2 separate regions of the Homo sapiens genome follow, and region 1 is linked to region 2. Evidence: fine-mapped expression QTL. A gene starts in region 2. The other region holds a variant in brackets. All regions are shown on one strand. Distances are between the middles of the regions. Region 1 overlaps HEATR5B (HEAT repeat containing 5B). Region 2 holds the start of HEATR5B (HEAT repeat containing 5B).

Region 1 (2,922 bases), 20 kb before region 2:
GATTAGCTTACTTATTTGTTTGTTTTTTAGAGACAGGGTTTCACTCTGTCACCCAGGCTGGGGTGCAGTGGCACAATCATAGCTCGGTGTAACCTGGAATTCCTGGGCTCAAGGGATCCTCCTACCTCAGCCTCCTGAGTAGGTAGGACTACAAGTGTATGCCAACATACTTGGAAAATTTTAAAAATTTCATTTTTTATTTTTTGTATGACAGGGTCTCACTATGTTTCCCAGGTTGGTCTCAAACTTCTGACCTAAAGTGATCCTCCAGCCTCGGCCTCCCTAGGCATTGGGATTACAGGTCTGAGCCACCACGCCCAGGCAAGGTTAGCTCAATGGTAGATGCATAATAGGAGTTCAACAAATCTTTGAATGTGGAATAATAGTGCTAATAATGACAGCATTTATTTAGTGGTCACATGGGCTAGCACTGTTCTCGGTACTTTGCTGTATTAACATCCACACAGAATGGCTAGTATAGACTTAAATTTGGTGCAGCTGAATAAGAGGGGAGATGAAACTCTAAGAGGTTAGCAGAGCAAAGGCTTCGAAGCTGAAAAAGGCCAGGGAAGGAAGGAAGATAACTAGTCTAATTAGAGCAACAGGAAATTTGAATGAACGGCGGAATGAAGTCAAATTATAAGATACCAGTTTACCAGACAAAGGAGATTATATTTTACTCTCTGAGTACTGGGTAGTCCCTAAGGGTCTCTGGGCAAATGTAAAATATGAAAGTGGTATGAGGAAGATGGGACGTGTGGGGAAGATGGAAAGTCTGAGGAAGATGAGAATGAGGAAGCAACGATATGACAAAGTGAGAGGGAAGTCTGGATTTCATCGGTAGCTATGCAACTGCTATGAATGGACATGGGCTTAATGTCCCAGAAAAAAAATCAAAATTTAAAACTCTAGCCCCAATCTGCCTATGTAAAGTTTCAAATAATATTTATATAAACACTTAAGATTACTGAGAAGAAAACCATGATAGTAGTATACAACAGAAAGAAAGGAGAAAAAAAAGCTACTCATATTTTTTATTTTATTTTATTTTTTGAGACGGAGTCTTTCTCTGTCACCCAGGCTGGAATGCAGTGGTGCAACCTCAGCTCACTGCAACCTCCGCCTCCTGGGTTCAAGTGATTCTCCTGCCTCAGCCTCCCAAGTAGCTGGGATTACAGGCATGGGCCACAATGCCCGGCTAATTTTTCTGTATTTTTAGTAGAGACAAGGTTTCACCATGTTAACCAGGCTGGTGTCAAACTCCTGATCTCAAATGATCCACCTGCCTCGGCCTCTCAAAGTGCTGGGATTACAGGTATGAGCCATCATGCCCGGCCATGATTTATTAAAACCACTCAATTTTTACTAAACATTATCAAAATGCTAAATATTACAATAGC[G/A]TATTATCCTGACATCTTTGAATATATAGCAATGTGAACTTTTATTTCTAAAAGCTGAAAGAAAAGCTCTGACTTTCAAATAATTACTATATCTAAGGTTGGGTTTTTTTTTTTTTTTTTTTTTGAGACAGGGTAGGTCTTGGTCTGTCACCCAGGCTGAAGGACAGTGGCATGTTCATAGCTCACTGTAACCTCAAACTCCTGGGCTCAAGTGATCCTTCCAACCCATCCTCCCCAGTAGCTAGGACCATGAAGTTGGCTAACTTTTTTTATTTTTTGTAATGATGGGGTCTCACTATGTTGCCTAGGCTGTTTTTTTTCTCTTTCCCTCTAAAATAAATTATAACATGTTACTAGACTTGGACAAAATCTATTATCCTTACATCAGAATTAAATATCAAATTATAATAGGGTCTGTTAACACCATAGTAAGAACACTATGTTTTATGATAACATAGTACAACTGTTATTTGACCACCCTGTTCAACACTAAACACAGCAGCGTTCCTATAAAGACCAAAGCCCACGTGACAGCATTCCCAAGTCTAGGATCTCCGTCATACCTTTCCTTTGGCATGAGGAATGCCCAAAGGACACTGATGTACTCCACCTAACAAAGCAGCCATTGCAAAACTATATCCACTGACAGCTTCTGGTGAGGTCTTCAAGTTGTTGAGCCGTTCTGCACACCTGTCTAGAAATGGTGTCAGCTGGAAAGGTAATGCCACAGCCACACAGCGCAAACACCATGCAGCAGCAAGTCGGGCAGCCATGCTTGGATGAAGCAGCACTGAAGTCACAATCTCCAAAAGCCCTAAACAAGAAATACTCAAAATATTACTCTTTAATGAAGTCAAATGATTTCAGAAACTCAAATACTATCTAAAAAACAATAACTGAAATGACAATCACCAAGCTTTCACACATATAGATCCACAACTTTGCCTAAAACTACATACAGTAGAGTACTTCAAAGGAACATTTTCTATGAAGAACATAGTACAATTATATTCAATATTGATGTAAAATTTAATAGAAGTCTTCAACAAATTTTAGTCAATTTTTATAAAAAAACTACCACAATTGCTTTTGATTTCTGTTCCAAAACTTTATTTAACCATTTAATTCAATATTCTTTACAAGGAAACTTTTTTTTTTTTTGAGACTCACTTTGTCCCCCAGGCTGGAATGCAGTGGCATGATTTCGGCTCACTGCAACCTATGCCTCCTGGGCTTAAGCAATTCTCCTGCCTCAGCCTCCCAAGTAGATTACAGGCACGTGTCACCACAGCTGGCTAATTTCTGTATTTTTAGTAGAGACAGACTTTCACCATGTTGACCAGGATGGTCTTGAACTCCCGATCTCAAGTGACCTGCCCACCAGGGCCTCCCAAAGTGCTAGGATTATAGGCACGAGCCACCACGCCCAGCCTATCACAATGAATATTAATTTAAGTAAAACCTGATGATCTGAAGTGCTAATGATGATGATAAGCAACTAATCAGGAATTAAATATCAATC
Region 2 (2,922 bases):
GTTCCGGGGTCTCAGCTCTGAAGCCTGTGAGACCCCTGATTTCCCACTTTACACCTCTATATTTCTGTGTGTGTCTTTAATTCCTCTAGCGCCGCTAGGTTAGGGTCTCCCCAAACGAGCTGGTCTCGGCAAATCAAGGCTATGCAGGAAGAAAAAACAGATTAAAAAAAAAAAAGAGCCTATTATTGACTCCTCAAAGAGATAAGTGAAGACACTGGGATTGTTAGGCAGCATAGAGAGATCACTTGCAACGGGTGACGATGATAAATTTAAAGTGACACCAGTCATATAGCCATGTTTTTCTCCAGTTACAATGAGCTGCCCAGGTACAAACATAAAGAAGATAGGCAATGAGCTGGATTTAAACGAGGTTTGAGTTTTGCCACTAAATTTCCCATTCGTGTAATACTCTCAAGTTCCATAAGTGACCCATAAACCTTCCAAAACATAACATGTGTTTTCTTAAGAATCATGACCACATAATCTCTTCACGTTAATGCAACTGGGAAAAAAGAGCAATACCATACCTTGTTGGCAGCAACCAAGACTTTATCAAGAAATCGCAACCATTCAAAGATGAAAACTGGTCTTTTTGCTTCGGTGATTTGAGCCAAAGCTTCTTCATTTAGCAATAAACTGTGGGCTAACTCCATTACGGAAGTTTGAAATTCACACCTTAAATTTAACAGAGTAAAAAATACTTGTAAGTATTTTTTAATGTTAAAAGTCAAGCTTAATGGAATATACTCACTAAGAAAAGTAGGACTACTCATTTCATTTGGGGAAAAACTCAACTTCTTTGAGGCAAAACCTGAGAACATACTTTTAAATGACAAAAATACAAACAAAAACAGAAGAAAACTACTTGGTAAGGAAGAGTGACTCATGGAGTGAAAAGAAAATTAAAAGAAATTATTGCCAAAAAAGGCATTATTCCAGAAGAAATATGTCCAGCAACACATATGTCATTTACCCGTTCTATAAATGAAAAAACTGAAGCACTAAGATCAAACACCCCAGCCGGGCTTGACAACCATCCTCCTCTTTTTCTCGTCCAGGGTTCGGTACATAGCACCTTTACCCTCCCGCGCTGCACCTGGCCAGAGGGACTGAGGTCAAAACACCCAGCACAGACATCCCGAACTGCAGGTCTCCAAGACTCTTCCTACGCGGATGGGTGGGGCGGCCAGGCCCGGCGGCCGAAGCGTCAGTGACAACACCAGGCGGTCCGGAATGCACCCGAGAAGCCTCGCGCGCTCGGGGTCTGGCTTCACCTGGCTACTCCAAGAACCGCAAGCGGCGGACCCGGGGAAACACCAAGAGGCCGCCGCAAGCCTCCGTGGGGTTCCGCAGGCTGTCAATAGCACGAGGCGGCAGCTCGGAACTAAGCACGGAGCCAGAAAAGGGAAAATGTTCATTACGAACTCAAATGTCTTCCCCACCCGTCTGAAAATGTACGTCGGACAGGAGTCCGTGCGTGTCAACATGCATGCTTCGGCGACCTCACCTCGTAGTCTGGAAGGGAAGATCAGCTGAGCTCCGGGGGTAGAAGCAGCCACCAAGAGACCCGGATGCCCCACCTCCCGCACTCCTACCTGCAGGAAACAAGGGAAGAGCGCTTGCGCGGAGGGCTGGTCTTGCGCAAGCGCAGTCACCACGTCCTCCTATCCCCACCCGCCGCGAATTTCCAATAGAGTCTGCACTAGGAAACTGGTGGGAGCCGAGGTCCGGAAGTCCGACGCTGGTCGGTGGGCGCATGCGCAGCGCGCGCTCTACGGCGCTGAACCGGGGCGAGCAGAGAGCTGTCAGGTAAGAGAGCTGTCAGGTAAGGGTCTGGGGACAACCGGTAGAATGATAAAAGGCAGAGTGCGCTGGCCATGACTACCGTATCACACCGTCAGCCACTTTTCCATCCGTGGGTGGTTGCGTCTGTGGGACGCTTGCAGCCAGGAGGAACGCGTGAGGGAAGGGATCAGCGGTTCCTGAGCGTAGTATTGAGAGTGGGACGTTTCTTGTCACATTTATACTGTAGGTCCATTTCTCCACTTGTATATGTAATGGGACTCTCAATATGTCTGTTTCCCGACTACGCCCCCTAAAAAAACAAAAACAAACCTACTCCTACAGTCTTCCCACTCTCAAAAAACGTTAACTCCGTTCTTCCATGTATTCAGGCCAAAAACTTAGCGTTATCTTGACATCGTTCTTTACGTACTACCTACAACATCAGCAAATCCTGTAAGCTCTACCTTCAAGTGTACCCCAAATGCGACCACTTGCATTGCTATCACTCTGGTACGAGCCTCCATCATCTCTGCCAGGGTATCGCCTTGTGAAGTTTATGCTTATCTTTGATGGAAATGGATAATGCTAAAGTATATTTTACCAATAGAAAGAGAGCTTTAAAAGCAACCTGTAACCCCATTCAGATGTGCCTGGCACTTTAAAGTTAAGTAGGTCTCTTAAAAACAATGTAATCCTATTTGCAAGGCACTATGACCCGGATTCTTTGTGGTTTTGAAATAGTCATTTAGCCATACTGAACCTTAATTTCTCCAACAGGAAAAACTCTTCCTACCTTGTAGAGTTGTTAGTGGTGGTTAAATGTGATAAAAATGTGTGATATACTGGGTAAGTGTTAAACCATTATGTGTAAAAATGCTGTTATTACCAATGAAGAATCTGAGGTTTAGAGGAAGCGGGTGAATTACCATAAATGCTGTATATAATAGTGCACGTTTTTAACTTATAATAAAAATAGGTAAACTAAACTGTAATGTTTAAAGATGCACACGTGGATGACAAAACTATCGAGAAAATGAAGGAAATGATTGCCATAAAAAACAGAATAGTGACTATTCTTAGAACCAAAAGAGAGTTGCAACTGGATAGGGGACAAAGAGGGCTCCCAGGTGCCTGATA

Evidence for each region. PIP is the estimated chance that this variant, and not a neighbour inherited with it, causes the effect.
Region 1: its variant is fine-mapped to the expression of HEATR5B in whole blood (INTERVAL, PIP above 0.99).

Annotation. Positions count from the first base shown.
Region 1 is chr2:37,062,777-37,065,698 of GRCh38, forward strand. HEATR5B (HEAT repeat containing 5B) reads right to left here. Exons shown (of 36, transcript NM_019024.3): 10 at 1,964-2,214. Among named protein-coding and RNA genes, the nearest start is that of HEATR5B, 20 kb to the right of the region's middle. The variant G/A (reference allele first, on the strand shown) is at 1,401.
Region 2 is chr2:37,082,762-37,085,683 of GRCh38, forward strand. It overlaps HEATR5B (HEAT repeat containing 5B), which reads right to left and starts at 1,611. Exons shown (of 36, transcript NM_019024.3): 1 at 1,508-1,611; 2 at 528-675. The coding sequence starts at 653. It overlaps GPATCH11 (G-patch domain containing 11), which reads left to right and starts at 1,757. Exons shown (of 9, transcript NM_174931.4): 1 at 1,757-1,809. RefSeq lists enhancers at 1,119-1,218, 1,689-1,848.